5 linked regions of the Homo sapiens genome follow. The protein of the gene in region 1 purifies or fractionates together with the protein of each later gene. This does not show direct contact. Each region holds a gene or a part of one and is shown in the gene's direction. Other genes may lie near its edges.

What was found.
Region 2: the proteins of DMTN (region 1) and UBR1 purify together in Homo sapiens (affinity purification with mass spectrometry; 3 studies listed by BioGRID and IntAct, with this or other methods). This does not show direct contact.
Region 3: the proteins of DMTN (region 1) and TRAPPC10 purify together in Homo sapiens (affinity purification with mass spectrometry, with the first as the bait; one large-scale study listed by BioGRID). This does not show direct contact.
Region 4: the proteins of DMTN (region 1) and CREB3L2 purify together in Homo sapiens (co-immunoprecipitation; one large-scale study listed by IntAct). This does not show direct contact.
Region 5: the proteins of DMTN (region 1) and ATE1 purify together in Homo sapiens (affinity purification with mass spectrometry; one large-scale study listed by BioGRID and IntAct). This does not show direct contact.

What each region holds. Positions count from the first base shown.
Region 1 is NC_000008.11:22,065,565-22,071,303, forward strand, and holds part of DMTN (dematin), read left to right. Parts: intron 1-951; exon of another isoform or gene 952-1,140; 5' UTR 1,141-1,311; coding exon 1,312-1,329; intron 1,330-1,520; coding exon 1,521-1,595; intron 1,596-1,962; coding exon 1,963-2,118; intron 2,119-3,451; coding exon 3,452-3,496; intron 3,497-3,854; coding exon 3,855-3,954; intron 3,955-4,316; coding exon 4,317-4,373; intron 4,374-4,617; coding exon 4,618-4,770; intron 4,771-5,739. UniProt on the Homo sapiens protein: Membrane-cytoskeleton-associated protein with F-actin-binding activity that induces F-actin bundles formation and stabilization. Its F-actin-bundling activity is reversibly regulated upon its phosphorylation by the cAMP-dependent protein kinase A (PKA).
Region 2 is NC_000015.10:43,022,539-43,028,277, reverse strand, and holds part of UBR1 (E3 ubiquitin-protein ligase UBR1), read left to right. Parts: intron 1-449; coding exon 450-502; intron 503-1,614; coding exon 1,615-1,717; intron 1,718-2,848; coding exon 2,849-2,897; intron 2,898-3,294; coding exon 3,295-3,449; intron 3,450-5,476; coding exon 5,477-5,576; intron 5,577-5,739. UniProt on the Homo sapiens protein: E3 ubiquitin-protein ligase which is a component of the N-end rule pathway. Recognizes and binds proteins bearing specific N-terminal residues that are destabilizing according to the N-end rule, leading to their ubiquitination and subsequent degradation.
Region 3 is NC_000021.9:44,101,670-44,107,408, forward strand, and holds the end of TRAPPC10 (trafficking protein particle complex subunit 10), read left to right. Parts: intron 1-1,108; coding exon 1,109-1,303; intron 1,304-1,623; coding exon 1,624-1,862; 3' UTR 1,863-4,883; downstream 4,884-5,739. UniProt on the Homo sapiens protein: Specific subunit of the TRAPP (transport protein particle) II complex, a highly conserved vesicle tethering complex that functions in late Golgi trafficking as a membrane tether.
Region 4 is NC_000007.14:137,899,745-137,905,483, reverse strand, and holds part of CREB3L2 (cyclic AMP-responsive element-binding protein 3-like protein 2), read left to right. Parts: intron 1-1,466; coding exon 1,467-1,525; intron 1,526-4,061; coding exon 4,062-4,130; intron 4,131-5,739. UniProt on the Homo sapiens protein: Transcription factor involved in unfolded protein response (UPR).
Region 5 is NC_000010.11:121,917,310-121,923,048, reverse strand, and holds part of ATE1 (arginyl-tRNA--protein transferase 1), read left to right. Parts: intron 1-637; coding exon 638-700; intron 701-5,739. UniProt on the Homo sapiens protein: Involved in the post-translational conjugation of arginine to the N-terminal aspartate or glutamate of a protein. This arginylation is required for degradation of the protein via the ubiquitin pathway. Does not arginylate cysteine residues.

The sequences.
Region 1 (5,739 bases):
GGGCGCGGTGGCTCACGTCTGTAATCCCAGCACTTTGGGAGGCCGAGGCAGGCGGATCACTTGAGGTCAGGAGTTCAGGACCAGCCTGGCCGATATGGTGAAACCCCATCGCTACTGAAAATACAAAAATTAGCCAGGCACACGCCTGTAATTCCAGCTACTCGGGAGGCTGAGACAGGAGAATCGCTTGAACCTGGGAGGCGGAGGTTGCAGTGAACCGAGATGGCACCCCTGCGCTCCGGCCTGGGCGACAGAGCAAGACCTTTTTTTTTTTTTTTTTTTTTTTTTTTTAACGAGGCAGGGTCTTACTCTGTCACCCAGGCTGGAGTGCAGTGGTGCGATCTCGGCTCACTGCAGCCTCGATCTCCTGGGCTCAAGTGATCCTCTCACCTCAGCCTCCCGAGTAGCTGGGACTACAGGCATCCAGCACCACGCCTGGCTAATTTTTAAAATTTTTTCTGTAAAGACAAGGTTTCGCTATGTTGTCCATCCTAGTCTCGAACGCCTGGGTTCAAGCAATCCTCCTGCCTCAGCCTCGCAAAGTGCTGGGATTGCTGGCGTGAGCCACTTATGCCCGACCTATGCAGTGTTTTAAAAATAATTTTTTCCATGAAACAAAGTTTGTGTGAAGTTCTGACGTGTGGAATTTCCACCTGTGCGTCATGGTAGGCACTCACAAAGTTTCGGAGTGCGGATGTCAGGTTTTGGATGAGGGATGCAGAAGCCGGGCTGCTCAGGGAACCCTCTGTGTTAACCCTTCCTGGGCGAGCGCGGGGAGGTGGCGGCGGGGACAGTGCCCCGAGCGGGAGTGGGACCAGCGGCCGGGAGGGGAGGGCCTCAGCCAGGGCCGCAGGCCGGGCCGGGGCGGGGAGGGCAGGTGCGGCGGGGCCAGGCCGTGGAGGCCTCCGCCCGGGCAGCCGGCTGACCCCTGCCGTCATTTCCTTTGAAGCCAGAGAACAATGGCTCAAAAACAAGCGCAGCCCGTCCTTCGGTCGCCTCCCGTCCACGCGCGCGTTCTCCGGGGCTGAGCGGATGGGAAGCCTCAGCCGCAAGGGGCCCGGCTGCCTGGAGAGCGGCCGCCCGCGGAGGCCCCGCAGCCTAACGCCGCCCCGGCGCGGCCTCCCTCCCTTCTCCCCGCAGCCTGGAGAGTCACCGCCGAGGGATGAGGACGCGCCAGCCCGGGGGAACGCGCCAGCTGCTTTCGCGGCCCCAAGCGCGCAGCGCCCAGCAGCCGCGCCGAGCCTGACACGCTGTCCTCTCCCCTCGCGCACAGGGCTCTGCGAGTGACCCGGCGGGCGAGCTCCGTGCTGCATGGAACGGCTGCAGAAGGTGCGCGGCGCCGCCCCGGGCCGGGGCCGCCGAGGGCGGGTGGGGGCCGCTTGGGAGTCCAGGGCGCCACCTGGTGGCCACCCGCCGCGCAGCGCCGCGCAGCGCCCCGGGTCCCCCAGGCCTAGGGCCGCCCCCGCCCCGCTCCCGCACACACGCACGTGCCCACCCGCCCGCCTTCTCGCTCTCCCCAGCAACCACTTACCTCCCCCGGGAGCGTGAGCCCCTCCCGAGATTCCAGTGTGCCTGGCTCTCCCTCCAGCATCGTGGTGAGTACCCCTCTCGGCCACCAGCAACCCCTGGCTGGGAGGGGGGAGGGTGGGGGACCCCTGGCTGCTAGCGTGCCTTCCCGCAGAGCCTCCCCAGTGGTGGTCCCTCCGGTGCTGGCGGGCAGAGAGAACCCAGAAACCCAGAGAAGCTCCCATATCCCCCTTCCACTGGTCTGGCCTCGTTAATCCGAAGTGCTAGGCAAAGGACTATCATGTTTTAAGGTGACTAATTTCTTAAAATAATAGAATTGTTAACGTCTGCAATGGCGGTCCATTTTCTTGGTAATTGACGTAAGTCTAGCTAGCAGGGCCAGTGTCCTAGGCGGGGCTTTCGGCACAGCAGTTTCACGCGCACCTTTCCCTTCAGGCCAAGATGGACAATCAGGTGCTGGGCTACAAGGACCTGGCTGCCATCCCCAAGGACAAGGCCATCCTGGACATCGAGCGGCCCGACCTCATGATCTACGAGCCTCACTTCACTTATTCCCTCCTGGAACACGTGGAGCTGCCTCGCAGCCGCGAGGTGAGGGGGCTCCTCTTGGGCAGGACTCCGGGGGAGGCCCCCCCCAGCCACACTGGGTGGGGACCGATCCCTCCCGTGCTTCCTTTCCTGGAGGTCTGCCTCGGCAAAACAAGAGAGGGAACTGTGCGCAGGAACCAACCAGTCAGTCCATCCGGTGTTCAAGAGAGCAGGCAGAACGGTCTCTGGGCTGGCATGTGGCTCAGATGTAGAGGGGTGGACACCTTTGGATGGCAGCAACACACAAGAGGCACAAAGAGCAAGATTTGTGGAAACAGTTCAGAAGCATTGAGAGCGGGGGCTGAAAGTCTAGCGGAGGGACCCATGTGATGTTGTGGCCTCAGCTTACCCTCGTGTAAAATAGAGGTGACCTTTCTGCCCATCCACGCGCAAGGTAGTGAAGGTGCAGGAGACAGTGCAAGGCAGGTACTCATCAACTGCCTCCAAGACAGGGTAGCGTCGTGGCTGACCAGTGACAGGGGGCTAGATCATGGGGTGACTTCAGTACCTGCGTGATAAACCCCGACCTCATCCTTGGATGCTTCTTGGTCTTGTCTCTTCTATTTGTTTTGAGGCTCTGAGGACAGGACAAACTATTCCCCAACTGGTTCCCAGGCTAGGCACGGTGGCTCACACCTATAATCCCAGCACTTTTGGAGGCCAAGGTGGGAGGGTCACTTGAGGCCAGGAGTTTGAGACCAGTCCAGGCAACACAGGGAGACCCCCATCTCTACAAAAATTAGCAAGATGTGGTGCTGTGCACCTGTAGTTTCAGCTGCTCAGGAGGCTGAGGTGGGAGAATCCCTTGAGGCTGGGAAGGGGAGGCTGCAGTGAGCTGTGATAGAGCTACTGCATTTAGGCTGGGCAACAGAGTGAGACTATAAGAAAGAAAGATGAGAGAGGGATAGAGGAGAAAGAATAAGAGACAAGAGAGAAGAAAGTGGAGAGAGAGAGGAAGGAAAGAGGGAAGGAAGGGAGGAAGGCAGGGAAAGAAAGAAAAAGGACAAAGGAAGTAGGAAAAAATTAAAAGAAAGATGAGAGCGGGAGAGAGGAGAAAAGGGGAGGAGAGAGGAAGGAAGGAAGGAAGGAAGAAAAGAGTGCCCTTGGAGCCCCAGGAGTACTGAGCAAGGCTCGCGTGCTTCTCTGTGCCTCCTGTGGGAAGGCTGAGGACTTTGTGCAGGGAACTGTGGGAAGGATCCAAGAAAGCAGAGGTGGCCCAGAAGCTGGCCAGGAAAGTGTGCGGCTTTGGGTGGGGGATGAGGTGGCCTCTCTGGAATTCTAGGGAAGAGGCTGAATCTGCCCCTGTAGCTCTGACCAGCCCCCTCTCCATTCACAGCGCTCGCTGTCACCCAAATCCACATCCCCCCCACCATCCCCAGAGGTGAGTCTGCCCCACACCTGCAACTTGCCCTGCCCTGCCCTGAAGGGGATCCTAACTCCCTCCCCTCACACATCAGACCAAGCTCTGCAGAGCCCAGGGAGTGCCCGAATCAGCGGCCCCCTGGCTGTCACTGGCCAGCTCTGTGTCCATCATTCTGTCGGACCCAGGACCTCAACCCTTTCTCCCTGGGCCAGGCACCATCAGTAGGTCCTTGGAACTGTGCCACAACATTGCCCTGGGTTTGGAGGGATGCAGCCGGCCAGGATGGGAGGACAGAGAGGGTGGTGTGAGCTGATGGGGTGCATGTGTGGGTTGGAGGGGGTTAGGGGCCCTGGAGCCACACGCTTCTGCTCTGCAGGTGTGGGCGGACAGCCGGTCGCCTGGAATCATCTCTCAGGCCTCGGCCCCCAGAACCACTGGAACCCCCCGGACCAGCCTGCCCCATTTCCACCACCCTGGTAGGTCTTCTCGGCACGACCTCATTGTTTCCTAAGACTTTCTCCATCAGGAACCCCAATCCCCTTACGCTCAGTCCCCCACTCTCTGGGGTATATGCTCGCCTCAGGGCTAAGTAGGCCCCAGGAGGCCAGGACCCCTCCCAGAGATGGGAGACCTGTCACTTTTTCTCTCTCCCCCAGCCGGAAAAGTGTAAAATGTCCCAAACCCCTGAGGGGCAGTGCCAGGAATGCCAGCCCTGTCTTGGCTCTTGACAGGGGCCAGTGAGTTCCCCACCTTGTCCCGTTCCATCATCTCCATTCTCCTGGCCCCAGCCTCCCTGCCATCAGCATGTCCTCCTCCTCATCTGTTCTTCCTCCCACAGAGACCTCCCGCCCAGATTCCAACATCTACAAGAAGCCTCCCATCTATAAGCAGAGAGGTGAGGGCGCCCCTGGCTCACCAGAGCCTGCTTCCGGCTGCATGCTGGGAGGCCGTGCCCTGGGGCTGCGGGCTGGCTGGAGGGGGTCGGGAGGATAGCATGTCACAGCAGCACGTGTGCCCCGTGCTCAGCGTGTACACTGCTTTTACCTGCAGGACCTCACAGGTGTGAGGGGGGAGGGGTGAAGGTAGCCAAGTTGGCCTCGGGCAGGGCACACCTGGCTGACCCTGGCCTTTGTCTGCAGAGTCCGTGGGAGGCAGCCCTCAGACCAAGCACCTCATCGAGGATCTCATCATCGAGTCATCCAAGTTTCCTGCAGCCCAGCCCCCAGACCCCAACCAGCCAGCCAAAATCGAAACCGACTACTGGCCATGCCCCCCGTCTCTGGCTGTTGTGGGTAGGAGAGATGGGGAGAGTGGAATGGGTGGTCTGGGAAACTCCTGCACTCCCTCCCCTTGGCTCTTGCTGCAGTCCGTGAACCCACTCCCACCCCTGCCCTATGGTGTCCTCGTGGGCTTTTTCCTACCTTCAGGAGCCCCCAGGCTCCTTGCTCACTCACTCTCTGTGTTCCCATAGCGCTTGGTGTAAGTGGCCCTTTTATTGGTCATTCATTTGCTTTCCATTCATTTATTTCCTGACTCAACAGACATGTATCAAACTTCTGCATCCCAGGCTCTGTGAGGGGAGCACTGGGAAAGAGAAAGATAAATGATAGATGGTTTGGTCCCCAGCGAATTTTATTTTAATTTTTATTTTTATCCATTTATGGGGTACAGGTGTAATTGGTTACCTGCATAGATTGCACAGTGGTGAAGTCAGGGTTTTTATGATATTGTTATCTGAATACTGCACGTTGTATCCATTAAGCAATTTCCCATCACCACCCCCCACACCCTTCTGAGTTGCCATGGTCCATCATCCCACTCTCTACATCCATGCGTACACACTATTAAGCTCCCACTCATGAGTGAGAACATGCAGTCTTTGTCTTTCTGTGTCTTGTTTGACTTAAGACAATGGCCTCCAGTTCCATTCATGTTGCTGCACCCACTGAATTTCAGTCATGAGTGTGTGTATGTGTGTGTTGCCTACCCAGCTTCATGGCAAGGTGAGAAAATGTTACTCTTATTTTATTGTATTTTTATTTTATTTATTTATTTATTTATTTATTTATTTGAGATGGAGTCTCACTCTGTTGCCCCAGGCTGTAGTGCAGTGGCACAATCTTAGCTCACCACAACCGCCACATCCCGAGTTCAAGCATTTCTCCTGCCTCAGCCTCCTGAGTAGCTGGGATTACAGGCATGCACCACCACACCTGGCTAATTTTTTGTATTTTTAGTAGATATGGGTTTTCATTATGTTG
Region 2 (5,739 bases), on another chromosome or scaffold:
TTAGGACATCTAGACATGTATTGCTATAGATTAACTAGTTGGAGCTCATTAATTTTGTTACCTTGGTTTTAGGGATTAATACAGCATGGGCATGTACATAAATGATGAGGGTGATGAACATACTACATAAAGAAGAGCTTCTTTTCTTTGAAGTATTGGTAATACTATGTGTGTATGCTGTAGATGTATGTGTGTACTTATACACACATATGAAGGCAAACTTAGATAACCTTTCTTAAACAGTTTATATATACATCTTACCTCTTACGAAGTTGGTCTCCCAAAACGTAGATAATTGGTTTTAGACCTAATTTTTTAATAGTGGAAATTGATCTTTTTAAAATTATTTACAAAGTACTTCAGAGATGCAGTAGAAAATGTATTTCACTTCACAGAGAGGTGGAAGTCATTATATGAAGGTAAAAATGACAAAAATATTGTTTCAACAGGAAAATAATGAAACTGGCTTAGAGAATGTCATAAACAAAGTGGCCACATTTAAGTAAGTGCTTAATATTTATGCTTATTCTAAAAGGTAGTTTGATCTTTGTTCTTGTACTTTGGATACTTTGTAGAAGCTCTGAAGTTCTTGCCTGAACTCCCAAGAATAAGAGTGGAATACAGATTAGAAAGGGTGAGAATGAGGGGCTCACAGTAGACACTTAGCACCTGTTTGTTGAAAAAATGAGTGTTTTTGGCAAGTGAATGAGAAATACTCATTTATGATATTAGGTGATTTATTTAGATAGTAAGTAAATGAACTTTTCTGATACTCTCTTTCCCATTAATCTGAACCCATGATTTCATTTATTTTATAAATTTTTATTTTATATGCTAATTTTGGATTATTCTCTGGTAGAATTAAAACAGTATTTTATAATATTTTCATTTCAGTATATAAAATGGAAATACAAATTTAATTGTATTAATCTTTGAAATTTGAAAAATCGATACTGATAGTGAATTTCTACTTGTTACAGTATTGTGTTTACAGATACATTACTAGTTTCAAATAACTTTTAAAATAGGGTATAGCTTTTCTTATGATCTAGTAATGTTCATTGAAATATTCGACTTAGAGATTGGATAGAAACCAAAAGCTGTTTAATGTTTAGAACAAATATGGAGTACTCCTTTTGACCTCAGTGATTTTCCTTATAGTACTATATAAAGGATTCAGTAGTATATTTTCATTTGCAAATTACTAAGGTTATGATGTCTCCCTACTGTTTTAGATATGACCTTAGACAATGAAGTGTCTAAGGTCAATGAAGTGTTCTTTAGTTGAACAGACAACCTTTAGGCATCAGAGACTCTTAAATCTCTAAGAAGCTTTAGAGATAGGGCATGGTATCAGTTCTAGATAGTATAAAACAAACTTCTCCAGATTTGTTTGAATTTCATTATTATAAAACACAGCTTAGCTGTTATCAGGCTTTGTGTTCACAATGTAGGTTTTTAGTTTTATTATTGCAATGGAATTTTTCATAAGCTAAATGAGACATAATTTTTTTCTGTATATTTGACTTCTAGATTAATTTTTAGGTTTTTATTTTGTCTATATTTTATACTTCAAGAACACTGCAGTTCATCTTGTATTTTCCATCTATTTAGGAAACCAGGTGTATCAGGCCATGGAGTTTATGAACTAAAAGATGAATCACTGAAAGACTTCAATATGTACTTTTATCATTACTCCAAAACCCAGCATAGCAAGGTAGAAAAAAGTATCCTTTTCAGTAAATAAACCTAAATGCTTTATGCTTTCTAACTCCACAGAAAATTTTCTGCTTTTTCTATAGTTTCACGCTGGTTCTTATTAATAGAGGTCATTATGTCACCCAAGAATTAAAATTGAATCAATAATCTTATCTAGTATACAGGCAATATTCAGATTTTCCTGATTATACTACATATGTCTTTAATAGCTGTTTTGGGAAGAGGATTCAATCAAGCATCATGGACTTCATCATCACACACTCATTTGATTGTCATGTTTCTTTAGTTTTTGTTTTGTTTTGTTTTTTGTTTTTGTTTTTGTTTTGTGAAATGGAGCCTCACTCTGTTGTCCAGGCTGGAACGTAGTTGCACGATATCAGCTCACTGCAACCTCCACCTCCCAGGTTCAAGTGATTCTCCTGCCCCAGCATCCTGAGTAGCTGGGACTATAGGCACATGCCACCATGCCTGGCTAATTTTTGTATTTTTAGTAAAGACCGGGTTTCACCATGTTGTCCAGGCTGGTCTCAAATTCCTGACCTCAAATGATTCCACCCACCTCGGCCTCCCAACGTCCTGGGATTACAGGCGTGAGCCACCTCGCCCGGCCAATAGTTTCCTTTAATTTAGAAGATAATTCTTTTGCATTTTTTTCTTTTGTAACATCGGCATTTCTATAGAGTACCAAATAGATTCAGCTTAAACAGTTTTTGGCAAGAATACTATGTAAATGATATATTGCATCCCATTATTAGGCACATACGTCTTTTTGTCCCATGAAGGATCATGTTAAGTTTGATCAGTTAGTTAAGGTGATGTCTGGCTTTGTCCTTATCAAGTAAATACTTTACAGCCCATAGCATAGTACCCTGTGCATAATAGGTACTGGGTAAATATTTTCAGTAGAAAATAATGGAGACTAAGTTTTTGATCAGGGATATTCCTCATCTATTTTGCATTAGGTTTCTCTAGAACACAATTTTATTTCTAGGACAAAGAGGCATTTTGAATACATGCTTCAGTATATAAAGTATTTTAATAGGTGGTTGGGTCTTTCCTGACTGCTTTAATGTATTTCATTTGTTTCATGCTTCCAAAGCAGTATATTTAATGATAGATTTTTTTATAGGCTGAACATATGCAGAAGAAAAGGAGAAAACAAGAAAACAAAGATGAAGGTAAAAAGTGAGATTCTGAATTGACTCATTTTGACTATTTTCTGTGGTTTCACATCAGCAAAGCATATAGTTTTTTGTTGTTGTTGGTTTTTGAGAGTGGGCAACTCAAGGAAGTGCAAAGAGCTTTTTGCTTCTTATTCACATATTAAGATATGGTATATATCAGTAGTGATTGAATTTAAAATTGATAACAAATGTAGTTCATTTTGGGTGACTGATATAGTACTTACATTACACTTAACATTGATATTTTCAGTACTGGAAAGGTAGCAAAAAAGCATGTGTTGTTTTGCATGTAACCTATTATTTTTTGACATTTGCACTTTAGTATGTAGGATAACCCAAATAAAAATGTACCTGTTTGTCTCTTTCCCCATCCATTCCCCACCTCCTATAGCATTGCCGCCACCACCACCTCCTGAATTCTGCCCTGCTTTCAGCAAAGTGATTAACCTTCTCAACTGTGATATCATGATGTACATTCTCAGGACCGTATTTGAGCGGGCAATAGACACAGATTCTAACTTGTGGACCGAAGGGATGCTCCAAATGGTTTGTTTACCTGAAATATTTTCTCTACATCAAGTCCTAGAGTTCTTGGGGAGCTAGGGAAGATCTCAGGTCTAACTTCAGTTGGAACCACATCTAGAGCACCGGAAACATAGGGGTCATTAAAAATAGCTTACACACAGCACAAATTTTTTTTAGTGATCTCGTGTTTTTAGCATCCTTACTCTTGGGAACCATTTCTGTTTAATAAAACCCATGAAAACAAAAACAGGTGTACTTATGCTAATAAATTGACATGTTGTTATTGTGTCATGATTTTTTATATTTTTAATTTTACTTGAATTATAAGGAGACAGTATAATAAAATTTGAAGATAGGTCTAGACGTCAGTCTTGGGTTTCCCCACTTCCTATTTAAGGAGCAAATAATAATTTTCTCATTAGTAAAATGGATAAAAGTGTAATTATTCATAGAGGTAGGAGAATTAGCTAAAGTGAAAGCAGCTACTTTTCCTTGTTACTGTTGTAGATAAATACACGTTACTTAATTATGCCACGTCATGGTAGTTGTAACACCATATTTATTTATACCTGCCTAACTAAATGTTCCTTTTTCCTTGAGTATTGTTGGTCTACAGGTTCTAAATGCTGTCATTGCCATATGTGTGCCTCAATTTTTATTATAACACTGATAAATACATTCACTAGTAAATTTCAAACCATAGAGATATGTTTGAAACCAAGTTAAAATTTCTCTCCCTGAGTCCCAGTATGCTATATAGGACATAAGCATTGTTAAAGTTTTGTATATTCTGGAAATCATTGCACATTAGTGCATATAGATCTACTTATTCTTGATAGCTGCGTAGTCCATTGTATGGATATAATGTGTTTCAGTAGTCTCCTATTAATAGACATTCAGGTGTTTCTAGGTCTTTGCTGTAACAAAGAACAATAAAATGTACGTTCTTATACAAATGTTTTTGCATACCTAAGGGAGCGTATTTGTCATACTAATTCCTAATAGTTGGTATATACCTTTACATTTTTGATAGATGTTTTCAAATTGGCCTCCAAAAATGTTATACCAGTTTACTTTACCATCACCACTATGGTCAAAAGTGCCTACTTCCCAATACCTATGCCAGCTCTATATTTTACTAAACACCAAAATTTTTGCCACTGTAATAGGTGAAAAATAGGATGATCTTGTTTCAACTCATTTTTCTTTAAGTGAGGTTGAACTTTTTTTTTTTTTTTTTTTTTTTTTTTTGAGATGGAGTTTCACTTGTCACCCAGGCTGGAGTAGGCTGGAGTGCAGTGACACAATCTTGGCTCACTGCAACTTCCGCCTCTGGGTTCAAGCGATTCTCCTGCCTCAGCCTCCCAAGCAGCTGGGATTACAGATGCCCACCACCACACCTGGCTAATTTTGTATTTTTAGTAGAGACAAGGTTTCACCATGTTGACCAGGCTGGTCATGAACTCCTGACCTCAGGTGATCCACCCACCCAAACCTCCGAAAGTGCTGGGATTACAGAAGTGAGCCACCAGCTCCGGGCCAGGTTGAACATTTTTCATATGTGTATTCATCATTTCTCTTTCTGTAAACTGCTTAATGTGAACTGCTGAAACCTTTCCGTGTTTTTTACCTATCAGCTTTCTTATTTTTATACTTCTACTTAAAATAGATTTACCTTGCTAGGCATGGTGGCCCATACCTGTAATTGCAGCACTTTGGGAAGCTGAAGCAGGAGGATCACTTGAGCGCAGGAGTTTAAGACCAGCCTGGCCAACATAGTGAGATGCTGTCTATACCCCCCGCCCCCTCCAAAAAAAATTTAGCTGGGCGTGGTCGTGTGCACCTCTAGTCCCCAGCTACTCAGGAGGCTGAGGCAGGAGGATCACTTGAGCCCAAGAGCTTAAGGCTGCAGTAAGCTAGGATTGCCCCACTGCACTCCAACCTGGGTGACAGAGTGAGACCAGTCTCTGAAAAAAATTAAAATTAAATTAAAAATATATTTACCTGAAGAAGCGCAATTTTAAAGATCTCTTATTTTCCTCCTTCAGGCTTTTCATATTCTGGCATTGGGTTTACTAGAAGAGAAGCAACAGCTTCAAAAAGCTCCTGAAGAAGAAGTAACATTTGACTTTTATCATAAGGCTTCAAGTATGTTTGAGTATCACTCTTCAACACATTTGTCATTGAAAGTCTAGATCTTAAGGAGTTTTAATTTGTCAATCCTGAAAGTTTATATCTTACAGAGTTTTAATCTGTCAGTCCTTAAAACATAGGTAACCCTGAAATAATTTTTTTCCTAGCATTCTTAGTT
Region 3 (5,739 bases), on another chromosome or scaffold:
CACGGCAATGGCTACCAAGAGGTGGGGTGGCCCCACCAAAGCAGAAGCAGACTGGTCAAGAGCAGAGGCCACAGCAACAGGTTTTTGGGATACTCAAGGCATTTTGCTTGTTGACTTTCTGGAGAGTCAAAGGACAGCAGCGTCTGTGTATTATGAGATTGTTTTGAGGAAGATAGCAAGAGCTTTGGTAGAAAAACCCCTGGGGAAGCTTCACCAGAGAGTCCTCCTCCACCACGACAAAGCTCCTGCTCATTCCTCTAACAAGCCCAACTTCGTGAGGGTTTCTATGGGAAATCATGAGGCATCCACCTTGTGGACCTGATTCGGCTCCTTCTGACTGATTTTGGTTTCCTGATCTTAAGAAGTCTTTAAAAGGCACCCATTTTTATTCAGCTAATAATGTAGAGAAAGACTGCGTTGACATGGCTAAATTCTCAGGCCTCCCAGTTCTTCAGGGATGGACTAAATGGCATCGTAAGCAATGGCATCATTGCTTACAAACATGTCTTGACCTTGGTGGGGCTTATGTTGAGAAATAAAGCTTATATTTTCTGTTTTCATCTTTGGATTCCATTTTTGCATGAACTTTTTGTAGTTCCCTCATACGTATTCTCTTTCCATCCTTAAAAAGCAGCTCTGTGAGGCTGGTGGTGGTCTCAGCACTATACAGCGGTCATTGAGCCTGGAGGCCTTGGGGTGCTCTTCTGAGTGGCAGAGTTGGCTTCAGACCCAGTGGTCTTGGATACTGCCACTTACCAGACAGAACCCATTAACTGCCAAAGTCACCATACTGTGGAAGATGACACAAAAATTTGAAAACAAAATTAAATCATTTATTAACCTCACAGGAAAAATGCAGTTTTCTGTACACGTCCAGCATAATTCATTCTAATCCAGAACTAATTGAAATTGGACTCAATGAAATAGGGGTTGCCACCGTGAAAGTGCATGGCTTTATCTTCAGGCGCAGCTACAAGGCACTGGGCTCTGTGTCCGCAGTGTTTTGTCAGACAGCGTTGGGTGAGAGGATTGGGTAACGACGGCCGTGACTCTCGCCTGAGTACTGGAAGGCCCGTCCTGGATGACACATCGCTTCCTCTCGTTTCAGTTGTCGACAACAGTAGCAACTGGGCAGTGTGTGGGAAAAGCTGCGGTGTCATCTCCATGCCAGTGGCTGCTCGGGCCACTCACAGGGTCCACATGGAAGTGATGCCGCTCTTCGCCGGGTATCTCCCCCTGCCCGACGTCAGGCTGTTCAAGTACCTCCCCCATCATTCTGCACACTCCTCCCAACTGGACGCTGGTAAGGACTTTGGAAGAAAAAGTTTACCTTCAGTATTTGAGCAGGTGAGCACTTTGTGCGAGAGGTGATAAACTTATGACTGAGCAGGTTGGAGAACTAGCGGCGTGTTTTCAGTGCCGGTAGAAACTGGTACTAGAAGCCTCATCCGCTGTTAGAATCTTAGGCACCTGCTCTGAAAGCCAAGCCTCTGTGCACAGAGTGCTCTGTAAAGGGGCAGCCTCGGGTGGCATTCTGCACGTTCAGCCTGGCTCCGTGTGGCTTTGCCCGTCCCCAGGTGAGTGTCGGCGCAGCTTGGGTCTAACTTCCTGTGTGTTTTGCAGACAGCTGGATAGAAAACGACAGCCTGTCAGTAGACAAGCACGGGGACGACCAGCCGGACAGCAGCAGCCTCAAGAGCAGGGGCAGCGTGCATTCGGCCTGCAGCAGCGAGCACAAAGGCCTACCCATGCCCCGGCTGCAGGCACTGCCGGCCGGCCAGGTCTTCAACTCCAGCTCGGGCACACAAGTCCTGGTCATCCCCAGCCAAGATGACCACGTCCTGGAAGTCAGTGTAACATGACAACGCCAGGGTGAACACACGCCACTTCCCAGCTAGGAGTGCACTTTATGGGACTGTGACTGGACTCTTCCGTTCTGGCTCCAGCCAGACCTTCAGTGGTCCTGCCTGGCCGTGGGGACATCAGAGAGTGTCATCACGCAGCTGGCCAGCTGAGTTCTGTTGTTGTTTTCATGCCGCCTGTGATCTCAGATTCCTGCTTTTCTCACCCCGTCCCCATGCTGGTGTCCGACGCCGCTTACTCAGAGCCCTGGCCTCCCTCCCCCTACCTCACACGCTGCTCATGAAAGTTTCCACCCACGCTGTCTCCACGGAACAGCCTCCGTCTGCTGGCTCTTCGTGGAAGGCCATTTGTCTTTCAGGTAGACACTCAGCAGCCCTCACGGTCTTAGTGACGTGTGTGCCTTTCTGGTCACACAGCTGCCCAGTTTCCTGATCGGGGTGGATTTGTGTCCCCTAAGGGGTAAAACAGCCGTTTACCGCAGATCCTCTCATTGTGCTTTTCTAGAATAACACCCTTCTAGGGGAGGCGGGTGGGGGAGGGAGGGATCATAACCCCTTCTGTGCCTTGGGATGCCGGAGCTGGGGGACCTGGAGGCCCATCAGCCGGAGCCACGTGAAAGGTACTGAAGAAAGCTGAGACCCGGCTGTGAGGAGCGCCTCAGCGGTGAGGTGGTTTAGGGATAAATGTTTCTGGAACCCTGTGGTCCCCCATAATGTTGATAGAATATCATATGCACTGGGAGTTAAATATATTTAATTTAATGATCATTATATATGTGGGGGTTAATATGTTGTTTTTCTGTCCCTTTAAAGTCTTTACATGTAATTGTAGCTGTATAATCGTTATTTTTCTTTTGCATCTTAAGTCTTAGAAATTAAGATATTCCATCGTGAGGATGAGAGAGGTCCTCAGTGTGTTTTTGGTCTGGTTGTAGGGAAGGACTCAAGTCCTGGAATGTCCTCCACTGGTCTACTGAGTTGCAGTCACACTGTTCCAATGGATTATTTGCTTTCGGTTGTAAATTTAATTGTACATATGGTTGATTTATTATTTTTAAAAATACAGACTAACTGATGTAATGTTTATGTATAAGTTGCACCAAAAATCAAGGACAAAAATAAGTGTGTTTGTTTTTACAGGTGTGAAAGTCACAGCTTGTAAATAAGTGTTGTATGTATTAAACCTTTTCCAGTTCTCCAAAGCGATGTATTTTTGTACACTTGAAATAGAGTACTCTTAATTTACTGGGCAAATGTGCTTGGAATTGAACTTGACAAGATTAGCTCAAGCAGATAGAGTCGGGTCCAGCAGTGGGTGGCCCTCGTGTGAATCCCCGTGGATGTGCAAGTTGTGGAGAGAAGGAGCACCGGGTTCCTGCCCAGCACTGTGCTTGCGGGAGGCGGTGGGGCATGGGAGGAAGGAGGCACAGACCGGGGAAATATGACAGCCGTCATTTCCAGTATTCTCTGTGTTGTCTTTTAGCTCATTCAATAAATAAAGGTGGTGTGATTTTTTTTTCCTCCTGTCTTTTTCATTTGTAGAAACTGGAGACGTGTAAAGAAGATAAATAATTGTGTAATTAAACTTTCCAGAAATTTATCTTCCTCATGTGCAGTTTAACAAACTTGGTCAAACTAGTTAGCAAATTAGAACTTCAGAATCTAATGATAGTTTAGGGTTTCTAAAATAAGGTTTTTTATTGTAAAAATTGACGATTGCCCTGCATTTCTACCAAGTCCTGTGAATAAAGAGATGGGAGATTTGATTCCGTCAGAAGAGACTGTAATCCGTGTCGTCAGCCTGGGAGCCTTCCCCAGTGTAATGTAGCTTTCTCTCTTACCTTCTGGAAGAGGGAATGTTTCATTTATTACTGTTTGATTTTCTTGTATCTGGTTCTACTCCCAGGATGAAATTATCCAACTACATATATATTTAGAGGAAGAAAGTGAAGGGGAAATTTAAAATGTTTACGGCGCTTAATTGCCTGGAAATGAAATGAAATCAAATTTATCAGTTTTTTTCCCCCTAATTACCCAAAAGATCTTTTGCAAACTATGTTACATGAATGCTTCTGCCTCTTTAAGACAAAGAAGAATGTCACCCAAAATTGTCATTTTTTTCTTAATGTTCATCATAAAAGTCCTAAAAGAGTAACTGTAATTGGATGTTTATTGTTTTTATCTAAAGTAAGGTGTATGTGTTTGAGACAAGCTGGTTTTGTTGATAAAGAGATGTTAAATAATTGTGAAGCCAGATATGCAATGTGTATCTGAAAAGCAAGGAATTTGCAGCCGTTTTACAAATATCTGTGGAACATGTAAATACTGTCAAATGGAAAATAAAATAAGTTATAATTTTTGTGAATTTCATGGGATGTCCTATGATTGGAAAAATTATAACTCTTCTGATTCTAATGTGGAAATTGTTGTATTTAATCTGAAAATGACTTTACCTACAACAGTTCCATTGTCAGCACAGCCTAGGAAGGTCAGATCCTGTATTAATTACTCTTAGTGGAGATGCCAGATATCCCATACAGAATTAGCAGAGAAAATACACACAGGCTTCTATTCAAATTTTCTTTAGTGCTTAAAATTAAGTTTTAAAATGAAATCAGACACTGCAGGTTTGTATATAAAATGAAAAGCTATACTACTTTTTACAAAAGGGCAAACTGGGCTGATGTAAATGTTTTACTTTCAACTGTGTTCTTTAAAATAAATCCTACCTGGTTTTTAAATTTTATTTTTCATGAAAATGCTCCTTTCTCTACATTTATTCATCCTATATACATCAGGCTGTAAGACCCCCCCCAGTCATCATTAATACAATGTGTTGGGATTCTGTGACTGGAAAAGGTGACAAGTTGGTGACTTTGACACTGCAGGTATTCCATTTTCATGGTTTACTATGAAAAGTCATTTTTCATATTATGTAATATATTGTTAGATTAAAACCATTGTATTAAGACTTTAAAATGTAAGCATTGTAATTCTGAAAATACACATTTTAAGAAGAAACTATTTTGCACTGGATCTTTTGCTGCGACATGGTGTGACAACAGTATGTAATGTGAAGATTTTATTGTTTTATCTCCCTAGTCCTTGTTCCTGACTCTTGGGCATAGATTATTTGCCTTTTGGGAAACATTCGGATTATTTTTTTTTTTTTTTTTTTTTTTTTCTCTGAGACAGTCATGCTCTGTTGCCTAGGCTGGAGTGCAATGGCGCGATCTGGGCTCACTGCAGCCTCCGCCTCCCAGGTTCAAGCCATTCTCCTGCCTCAGCCTCCCGAGTAGCTGGGACTACAGGCATGCGCCTCATTTTTATACTTTAGTAGAGATGATGTTTCACCATGTTGGCCAGGCTAGTCTCGAACTGCTGACCTCAGGTCATCCACCCGCCTCAGTCTCCCAGGCGTGAGCCACCGCACCGGCCAGCATTCGGGACTTTATTCATAATTCCTTACCCAACAGTTCACAAGAACGAAGACATTTGGGTGTGCAGCGCTCTCATGTTGTGGACGCTGCTGTGCCAGGCTGGGCGTCCGTGCGGAGCGCGCCCAGCGCTGGAGCGCGCCTAAGAGGCGCCCTGCAGTGTGGCTCCGGGGTGTGGGCGGGGCCCGGAGAAGGCCCCCGCCTTGGGAGGGGTTGGGCCTCGCGTTCAAACTCCGCCTCGGGGCGGGGCGAGGGCGACGCAGCTCCTCCTGCCTCCTGGGCCGCTGCGGACGGTGGTGCGCGACCCCGTCCCGGGCGCGCGCGCTGTGGGCGGTGCACGCCGTCGCTTCCCGGAAGTGCGTGCTGTGGGCGGTGCCGCGCGGACCCCCGGGAAGTGTCTCTGTGGGCGGCCGCCGGGTTGAGCTGCGGCACACGTGCGA
Region 4 (5,739 bases), on another chromosome or scaffold:
TCAGTATCTACCTCTTTGGTGCCCACGATGATACATTTACGGGTGGGAGGAAGCTATTAGAATTTCCATCTAGTTTTTTTTTTTTTTTTTTAACTCAGCCTTTTAAATTTTGGGTGTATGATATATACAATAGTTTCCTCTAGTAGACATATATATGTACTCTATGTATCTATATAAAATACAGCATATATATATATTATATATATATAAGATACAAATACATTGCAAGTGCTTGGTTAATTTTTTTTTTTCTTGGTAGGGTTTTGTGATCACAAAACTTCTGCAGTTTGCTGGTCTATATTTGGACTCAGTAGTCTCCTACCCCTGGGCCCCTCAGTGCTGAGCAGGCCTGATGAAAACCAGGGGGATGGCTGAGGCACAGGCCTACCAGGAGGGAGGGGGCAAAGAGGGAAGGAAGACAAGAGCTTAGTGTCACTCTATCCATGTGCGGAACCAGCAGCAAGTTGATGTATGACCAAGCCAGCTGTCTTATTTTATATATGTACTTCAGCCAGCAGAGGTCCAGGAGTTAAACTCATTTATCTGAGACCACACTGATGGTTTGTGAGCCACATGTTCTGGCCTGGCTCTTCACTCAGTGTCCATTGTTTTCTTTTCTTTTCTTTCTTTCTTTTTTTTTTTTTTCATACAGAGTCTCACTCTGTCACCCAGGCTGGAGTGTAGTGGCATGATCTCGGCTCACTGCAACCTCTGCCTCCCAGGTTCAAGTGATTCTCCTACCTCAGCCTCCCAAGCATCTGGAACCACAGACGTGTGCCACCATGCCCGGCTAATTTTTTTGTTTTTTGTTTTTTGTTTTGAGATGGAGTCTCTCTCTGTCACCTAGGCTGGAGTGCAGTGGCACAATGTCAGCTCACTGCAACCTCTGCCTCCCGGACTCAAGCGATTCTCTTGCCTCAGCCTCCCAATTAGCTGGGATTACAAGCATGCACCACCGCGCCCAGCTAATTTTTGTATTTTTAGTAGACGGGGTTTTACCATGTTGCCCAGGCTGGTCTTGAACTCCTGACCTCAGGTGATCTACCCGCCTTGGCCTCCCAAAGTGCTGGGATTACAGGCTAGAGCCACTGCGCCTGCCATTTTTTTGTATTTTTAATGGAGACAGGGTTTCACCATGTTGGCCAGGCTGGTCTCGAACTCCTGACCTCAAGTGATCCGCCCACCTCAGCCTCCCAAAGTGTTGGGATTACAGGTGTAAGCCACTGCTCCTGGCCACTCAGTGTCCATTTTACTGGTGGCCTGGTTTGTAGGAAAGTAGGTGTGAGTTTGGCAGCTAGAAACCCGGGAGGACAGACTAGTCAATGAACCAGCAGCTTAAACAAATGGCAAGCAGCTTGCAGAAGTAAGCAGGGCTTTGGTGACTTCTACGCTAACCACCTCCCATCTTAACTGGTTTACTTACAGAGCTGGAAATTAATCATTCTCCTCCCACTCCTCTCTCTCAGATTTCTGCTCAGGAAAGTAGGAGAAAGAAGAAAGAATACATGGACAGCCTGGAGAAAAAGTAAGCCTGCTGGCAAACTGTTGCGTTCATCGGGCAGTATGCACAGGGAAATATGGGTGTGCGGAGAATCGGGGAGAAGCAGTTCAATTCCTCTTTCTGGCCACCTTGGAAACCCGGTGGTTTATCAGCTGTGGTTTGCCTGCCACCTAGTGGTTATTTGGAGGAGACGTCTATAATAAAGCAAGAAAGAAGTGAAAGTACCTTAGTAGGTGTTTGAATCATACCACTGCCAGCCAAGGACCCCGGAGTCCTCACAGACTTCTTTTCAAACACATACAAATATTAACATTCCTGCACATTCCTGGAACTTCTAGCAGGAGAAGCCCTGTTTTAGCTGAAAGGAGCAGTGCTACTTAATCAGCCCCCATTGGCCACACTCCTTCATGCTCTAGAGAGGGCACATAGGGAAAGAAAGATGTCAGGTTGGCAGCCTTTATTTTCCAGCCACTACAATTCATGTTTTTTTTTTTTTGCAAAAACACTTGAAGGCAATCTTTGTTCTTTTGAAAAGTCTGTAATATCAGGCGGGCTGTTAGAAAAAGATGAATTAAATACAGTTTTGTCTTAGCCCTGGAAGTTAGTTCTTTAGCTAACAAACCAAGATATTTTTAAGATGGGCATGAGGCCCCAGACCCAGAAATGAACTTCATGTGGATCTGGGGAAAGGAGTGGCTGGTGGTTCCTGGCTGTTTCTCAAAGCTACTATTGAAAGTTTAGTGCTTCTATCACCTGACTTAAGTACTGGTAATGCAGCATTAAGTATAGTTGGCTCTCCATATCTGGGGGTTCAGCGTCCTCAGATTCAACCAACCATGGGTCTAAAATATTCAGAAAAAAACTTCAATAGGCTGGGTGTGATGGCTCACTCTTATAATCCCCGTGCTTTGGGAGGCCAAGGTGAGAGGATTGCTTGAGCTCAGGAGTTCAAGACCAGCCTGGGCAACATAGCCAGACCCCCTAAAAAATAAAAAAAAATTAGCCAGGCATGGTGGTGCACATCTGTGGTCCCAGCTACTCAGGAGGCTGAGAGGGGAGAATCACTTGAGCCCAGGAAGTTGAGGCTGCAGTGAGCTGTGATTGTGCCACTGCACTATAGCCTTGATGATAGAGTGAGACTCTGTCTCAAAAAACCAAAGCCAAAACCAAACAACTCAATAAAAAAAAACTACAACAATAAAAAATAATACAACTATAAATACAAGATAACACATATTTACATAGTATTTACATTGTGTTTGGTATTATAAATAACCTAGAGATGATTAACATATACTGGAGGATATGTAAAGGTTATATACAAATACTACACCATTTTTTAATCAGGGACTCGAGCATCTGGAGATTTTGGTATCTGTGGGGAGTTCTGGAACTAATCCCCCCTGAATACCGTGGGAAGACTGTAGTCCCATGCTGTCCCACCATTTTCTATGGGCATCCAGGGTCAAGATGTTCCTATGAAAGTCTCTTTACTGTCTCTTTTGGGCATGCGTGCCCCAGCACCAGGATTCCTAGTCCTGGGCTCTCGTCCTGCCCTTTGCTTAAGTCTCTTCACTTCTTATCAGTCCTGGTAAGAGTGTAGCTGGGAGTATCCAGATTACTGTAGTATAGAGGGAGAAGTATGATGGGCATTGAGAACACTAGGGAGGAGGTGAGAGGAAAGAGGTTGTAACACCCTAAAAGAGGGTCATATTTTGTACTGTCACTATTCATCTTTCATTATTCAGGCACTCATCACTCAGCTCCCTCTTTTTTTTTTTTTTTTTTGGAGACAGAGTCTCGCTCTGTGGCCCAGGCTGGAGTGCTGTGGCATGATCTTGGCTCACTGCAACCTCTGCCTCCCAGGTTCAAGTGACTCTTCTGTCTCAGCCTCCCAAGTAGCTCGGATTACAGGCACACACCACCATGCTCAGCTAATTTTTGCATTTTTAGTAGAGATGGGGTTTCACCATGTTGGCCAGGCTATTCTTGAGCTCCTGACCTCAAGTGATCTGCCTGCCTCAGCCTCCCAAATTACTGGGATTATAGACATGAGCCACTACGCCCGGCCCCAGCTCCTTCTATTTTTCTTTTTTTTTTTTTTTTTTGAGACAGATCTTGCTCTGTCACAAGGCTGGGGTGCAGTGGCGATCTTGGCTCACTGCAACATCTGACTCCTGGGTTCAAGCGATTCTCCTGCCTCAGCCTCCCGAGTAGCTGGGATTACAGGCACGTGCCACCACGCCCAGCTAATTTTTGTATTTTTAGTAGAGACAGGGTTTCACCATGTCGGCCAGGATGGTCTCTATCTCCTGACCTTGTGATCCGCCTGCTTCGGCCTCCCAAAGTGCTGGGATTACAGGCGTGAGCCACCGTGCCCGGCCTATTTTTTTTTTTTTCTTAAGTCTCTTCATCCTTCTTTCAATACTTTCCCACACTTCCATGGGGTGGCAGATCCCCCCAACCCTCCTTTTCCTCATCCCCACCTACCTCCACCCTAGCTCCTAGCTTAGTGTTTGCTCTATGGATAATAATTTTCTTCTTTCTCCCTCCTTTGTAGAGTGGAGTCTTGTTCAACTGAGAACTTGGAGCTTCGGAAGAAGGTAGAGGTTCTAGAGAACACTAATAGGTAAGTGTCACTGGACTGAGAGCTGATTGCGCTACCAATGGAAGATGGGGAAGGAAGAGGATAGAATCCAGAACCAGGGATGGCAGAAAAGTGGAGGAGGTCACAGTGAAAGTGCAGTTGTGCTGAGATGCTCAGCATGGCCAAACTCCACCCACCCACTCCTGCTACACACACACGCATGCACACGTGCTACTCTTGCACATATACAAACACATATGCACACATGCTCTCATGTTCACATCCACAATACACATATGTACACACTCTCATATGCACATACATGTACACATACATGCATATTCTTTACTTTTCCTAAATGATACAGGATTGAAGAAGAAGCTGATCATGACAAGGACTATGACTAGGGGGTTAAAAAAGAGGCTTGGAGGAGAATAAGATCAACAAGCCTGATTCTCCTGAAAATGACATCAAAATTTAGAGGTGACCAAGGAGGCACTGGCCACTTCATTATAATCTAATTTTAGTAGCAAATGATACTTATTAGTTTAAAAAAAGAGAAAATCATTGGTATTTTTTTTTTCTTTTTTTTGAGACGGAGTCTTGCTCTGTCGCCCAGGCTGGAATGCAGTGGCATGATATCGGCTCACTGCAAGCTCTGCCTCCCGGGTTCAAGTGATTCTCCTGCCTCAGCCTCCTGAGCAGCTGGGACTACAGGCACGCGCCACCACGTCCGGCTAATTTTTGTATTTTTTTTTTTTTTAGTAGAGATGGGGTTTCACCATGTTGGCCAGGATGGTCTCAATCTCCTGACCTCATGATCCGCCCCCACCTTGGCCTCCCAAAATGCTGGAATTACAGGTCTGAGCCACTGCTCCGGCTGCAAATCATTGTTTTTTAAATTAGTTTTTTAAAATTAGCTAGTTTATTAATTGCATTTCAAACCCATTTTACAAAAATTGTAACGGTACCAAGTTGATAAATTCCTCTAGCACTTGCTGTGCCCAGTGCTATTTTAAGCACTTTACAGCTATGAACTCATTTAGCCCTATGAGATGCCATTATTATCATCCTCACTATATAGAGGAGGTAACTGAAACTCGGAAAGTCTAGGTGATTTGTCCAAGGTCACACAGTAACCGCTAAAGCTGCATTTGAACCCAGGCAGTCTGGCTCTGGAGCCTGGATGTGGGAGGAGTATATGGAGGTTTATGCCTGGCTCATATGCAAGAGAAAGGGGTGAAAGTGCAGGGTTAAGAAACTGGCTTTTGGGGAGTTTCATCCAGAATGTATGTGTTCATGTGCACACATGATACATACCTGTGCTGTGACAATTATTTCTTAGAGACTCCTGTCACCCTGAGTGTTAGAGATCCAACAAATTAAGCAGAGAAAAATGGACTTACTGGGTAAACAAAAATTTAATCAGATTAAGGGTCAGTGTTAATGCCCAGTAACAATTGTGCAAATATTAAGGGATCAGTTTAAATCTCTTTGCATGTTATTTGATAATAACAAATGAATTTAATTCCCGTTTCCTGATGCTTCATGGTTTGTTGCTCAAAAAGCCAGCTAATATAGACATAAGCTAAAACTACCGCCAGTGGGATCCCCCTGAAATTTTCTCTGCATTTCTGGGAATGTGTGCTCA
Region 5 (5,739 bases), on another chromosome or scaffold:
ATTGCGCTATCCAGATGTGCGATGATGAGGACTGTCACCTTAGTGGCAATGGTGATAGAGAAGAGGGGACAATTTAGGATAGGGTTTAAAATGAAGGAAAGCTTGCTAATAGGATATAGAGGTGAATTCCAGGGAGGAGTTTAAAATGACTCCCAGGTCTCTGACTTGAGAACAGAATGAACAGTTCTGTTAGTACCATAGACCTGGAATGCATGGAAAGAAGCGGGTTAGTTTTGGGGTACTCCGTGCTGGTGCATGTGGAATACCCAAGTGTGGTTGTCACAGGCATCACATACATGAGTCCCACAGCATCGTGGGCATTTCTCTCATTGCCCTTGTGGTATTGGGGATTGGTGGCAGGTGAAGGCAGAGCAGGGGTGGCAGATGCTGGTGAGAGGGGAACTGAGATGATTGGCCGTGGGGTACACAAGTAAAGCTTTAGGAAATAAAAGGCAGGGTTCTAAACTTTGCTACACGCACTTTGAAGATTATTTGGCTTATGAAGAGTAATTAAACCTACATGCATTTCTACAATGTTGATTAGATTTTTAACCTTAATTTAATGCTCCTGTGCTAGGCTGTTTTGGTGCAAGTGAAAAATATATAAGACATTAACAAACTATTTTTATAATTTTAGAAGTGGAAAATATGTGTACAAACCTGTCATGAATCAAACATGTTGTCCTCAGTACACAATAAGGTAAGAATTTTAATTAGTAGAAAGAGGATTTATAGTATGAAGATTGTGTATAATATTTTAGTAGTCTCTTGTGCTTTTTTAATGTTTATTTCCGCTCTAGGTAGATGTCCTTTAAAAGGAAAAGTAAATGAGTTATGTCTTTTCTTCATACTGATGCTGTATTTATGTGCTGATCAGTAGGTTTTAGTAATATTGTTTGATTGGTTCAGATATAAATATGTGAAAAAAATACCCTCTTAATTTAGCAATCTTGTCAATGAATGCCATGAAATATTGGGAAAATGTTGGTAAATATTCACATTACTTTTGGATATTAAATATTATAGGACTTAGCTTAGAATTTTCTGCATTCTGGTGTATTGCTTGACACAGTGCTTGTGTTCAAGCAATGCTACAGGCTCCTATAAATTACTTGGTAGGTTCACGTTCTCATGTTGTGGGATTCAGGAGGACAAGAGAGACCTCGGGTTAAAACAGGAGAAACTTTATTGAGTGCACTTAGGCCCAGCTGACTCAACGTCTAAAAGACTGGGCCCGGAACAAAGACTTTTATACACAGTTCACAGAAGGGGGTGGGCTAGCTTGAAGCAAGCTTACAGTGGCGTGAAAGCAGGGATACAGAGGCAGGACAAACTCAGGATTGCACATGACCGTTGCCAAGCAACCCAGATGTCCGTTATCTAGGTTTGCCTGGGCTTATCCCATAATCTTCACTATGGTGCCCAGGCAGCTGCAGTTCAGGCCTACTCAGGCTTCTCATGACATTCATTGTACTTCTCAGATAAAACAATACTTGAAGTCACTAGTTACAGAGAACAGGAATCTATGAACTCATTCCGTAAAACAAAGGAAAATTTATTTTTTCTTCTCTGCATGTTGAGTGCTGGGAGAATCTCCAGAGCACACTAGATAATATTATCAAGGCTTTTCCTGGGTCTGGGCCGTGCCTGTTGCTGCCTCTGGGACAAGTCGGCCTAATACAGGAAAGCTTATTTATCTTTCTTTTTAATTTTATTTTTCTTTAATTTCCCACCTCACTCACTTATAAGTGGGAGCTAAACCTTGGGTACTCAGACATAAAGATGGCAAAAGTAGAAGCTGGAGACTACTAGAGGAGGAGGGAGGGCGTGAGCTAAGGGTTGAAAAACCAACTTGGTATGACGATCAGTACCTGGGTGGTGGGATCATCCATATTGCAAACCTCAGCATCATGCAATATATCCAGGTCACCAGCCTGTACCTATACCCCCTGAATCTAAAATAAAAGTTGAAAAAAAAATTAATTGGAAGGAAGAGGGCTTAAATTTAATCTGCCACTTACACTTAGAGTCCAGTTTTTTTTTTTTTTTTTTAAAGAGACGGAGTCTCGCACTGTCGCCTGGGCTGGAGTGCAATGGCGCGATCTCGGCTCACTGCAACCTCTGCCTCCTGGGTTCAAGTGATTCTCCTGCCTCAGCCTCCCGAGTAGCTGGGATTACAGGTGCCTGCCACCACGCCCGGCTAATTTTTTGTATTTTTAGTAGAGATGGGGTTTCACTATGTTGGCCAGGCTGGTCTTGAACTCCTGACCTCATGATCCACCTGCCTCAGCCTCCCAAAGTGCTGATATTACAGGCGTGAGCCACTGCACCTGGCCCAGAGTCCAGTTTTCTTAAATGGGAAACTTAAACCAAAGTCTATTTTCCTACAAAGTCTTCGTTGGATTTTTTCATAATCTTTTGGATTTTCCATGTACCTTCTCACCTCACCCTAACATAGAAAAATCTTCTCTCTTATTCTGGTTATAAGGTCATCATCATCTTTTTCTTCTTTTTTCTTTTTTTTTTTGAGACAGGGTCTTGCTCAGGCTGGAATGCAGTAGCACAACCATGGCTCACTGCAGCCTGCCTGCCAGGCTCAAGTAATCCTCCCACCTCAGCCTCCCAAGTAGCTGGGACTGTAGGTACACACCACCAGGCCTGGCAAATTACATTTTTTTTTATAGAAAAGGGGTCTTGCCATGTTTCCTAGGCAGATCTCACCATGTTTCCTAGGCTGATCTCGCCATGTTTCCTAGGCTGATCTCCAACTTCTAGGCTCAAAGGAGCCTCCTGCCTCAGCCTCCCAAAGTGCTGGGATTATAGGTGTGAGCTACTACTGCACCTGAACCTTTTTTTTTGATAGAAAATGTGAAAAGTGCGTTAACATTTTGAAGCATGTATTTGCCCCCAATTTCAATGTGTATATATACTCATAAAATTAAAAGACAGTTTTACTTTAAGAAATGAAAAATTAAAAAATTAAACAGTTTTTTGTCCATTAGTTTTTTTGTTTGGTCCTCAAAGCTGTCTCCCTTGGTTGCTCTTAACTTGTTTTTGGGTTGCAAACCATTTTGAGAAGTCGATGAGAGCTGGCCTCCTGCCCAAAGGGATGTAGACAAAAATATGTAACATTTTGCATATCCTCCCCACCGAGACTGAGTCTTGCTGTGTCACCCAGGCTGGAGTGCAGTGGTGTGATCTCAGCTCACTGCAGTGTCCGCCTCCTGGGTTCTAGCAGTGCTCTTGCCTTAGCCACCTGAGTATCCGGGACTACAGATGCCCACCGCTAGGCCTGGTTAATTTTTGTGTTTTTAGTAGAGACGGGGTTTCACCATGTTGGCCGCGCTACTCTCGAACTCGTGATCTACCCACCTCAAAGTGCTGGGATTTCAGGCGTGAGCCACCATGCCCAGCACATTTTGCGTGTTAATTTTAGAATGATCGCAGACTCCCAAAGGTTCACTGATACTTGATTAGGAGCTTTTTTTTTGAGATGGAGTCTTGCTGTCGCCCAGGCTGGAGTGCAGTGGTGCTATCTCGGCTCACTGCAACCTCTGCCTCCCGTGTTCAAGCGATTCTCCTGCCTCAGCCTCCCGACTAGCTGGGATTACAGGCGTGCACCACCACACCTGGCTAATTTTTTTGATATTTTTAGTAGAGATGGGTTTCACCATGTTGGCCAAGCTGGTCTCGAACTCCTGACCTCAGGTGATCTGCCCGCTTCAGCCCCCCAAAGTGCTGGTGTATCTGGAGTTGGTTCCTTCTGGTGGGTTCTTGGTCTCGCTCACTTCAAGAATGAAGCCGCAGACCTTCGCAGTGAGTGTTACAGCTCTTAAATGTGACGCAGACCCAAAGAATGAGCAGCAGCAAGATTTATTGTGAAGTGTGAAAGAACAAACCTTCCACAGTGTGGAAGGGGACCCTAGTGGGTTGCCACTGCTGGGTAGGGTGGCCAGCTTTTATTCCCTTATTTGTCCCTGCCCATGTCCTGCTGATTGGTCCATTTTACAGAGTGCTGATTGGTCCATTTTATAGAGTGCTGATTGGTCCATTTTATAGAGTGCTGATTGGTCCATTTTACAAACCTCTAGCCACAGAGCACTGATTGGTGCGTTTTACAATCCTCTAGCTAGCTACAGAGCGCCGATTGGGGCGTTTTACAATCCTAGCTACAGAGAGCTGATTGGTGCATTTTACAATCCTCTTGTAAGAAAAGTTCTTCACGTCCCCCCCACCCCCGCCCCGACCCAGAAGTCCAGCTGGCCGTTGGATTGGCAGAGGATGAGAAAAATGGGGTCTGGTTTGCTGACACTGTGTCATTACACAAAGAATAGAATGACAGAGTATCCTGTGCTGTCCTCTTTCAGTTTTCGTGGTTATAAAGAGAAGGTATCTTCTAAGGCAGAAGTCATTTGTCTTCAATTAGCAATTTATTGGATTATGGACAGGATTCTATTCATAAGTTTGAAGTTGATTGGCTTAATCTGTGATCAGAAAAGGGTGATTTCGATTGGTTAAAGAAAAAAGAATCTAAATTGTATTTGGTGCCTGTTACATGGAAAGCACTATTCTAAGCATATTGCCTTTATAAAAGGGGATTCATTAACATTGCAAAATAAAGTAGTTATGTGATTTTTGCATTTTACGTGGCATCAAATGTTTCCTGAATTGCGTCTCTTTGTAATTCATTATACATCATCTTTTTTTTTTTTTTTTGAGACAGAATCTTGTTTAGTCTCCCAGGCTGGAGTGCAGTGGCGCGATCTCTGCTCACTGAAACCTCCGCCTCCCAGGTTCAAGTGATTCTTCTGCCTCAGCCTCCTGAGTAGCTGGGACTACAGGCGCATGCCACCATGCCCTGCTAATTTTTGTATTTTTAGTAGAGACGGGGTTTCACCATATTGGCCAGGTTGGTCTGGAACTCCTGACCTCATGATCCGCCTGCCTTGGCCTCCCAAAGTGCTGGGATTACAGGCGTTGAGCCACTGGGCCCAGCCACATCATCTTTTTATGGAGTCATTTTCCATATTTACTCTTCTGGTTATTTTTACCTTGTATATAACAGCAGTTGCAATGAGAACTTAGATAAAGGAAAGGGGCTTATAGCTAACAGCTTAGCTTCTTGTTAGTCAGTAGGGACTCTCCAGTATGTGTGTATAAATGAGGATGAACTTTTCTGGCTATGATTTTTTAAGTTTTTTATTTTTATCAGAATTCCACATGCTCATTAAATGTCAAGTTGCAATAAAGTTTGTTTTGGAAAAAGCAATCCCCCAACCCCCCTGTCCCATTTCCTGTTCCCCTAAGGCAGTCATCTTGAAACATTTTAACTAATTCTTTTGGTTTTTCATCTCCCTGTCTTTAAGCAACATGCTTATATAATTGTAACACTTGCATTTTTTTTCTTTTTCTGTTAGTTTTCTCCATTATTTCCGGGCTTCTCTCTGTGGAAGATAAGGATTTAGTTTTCTCTTATCCCTGTTTCCCTGCCACATTCAAGCTCGTTTTTGTCCCCATCCCTAGCTTTCCATTCAGAAGTGTGATTTTGGGCAGATGTGTTCATATCCATTGTGACTGTGTAAATATGCTTCACAACTGAACCATGGCGGGTACTGTGATTACTTTTCCTGCACAAGTTTTTGCTTTCCTTGGAGTTACTAATTATCTTTTTTGTTTGCATAGTGTATATAACTATGACCAGATTATTTTGAAAATAAATCCCAGTTATGTAAGTTTTTT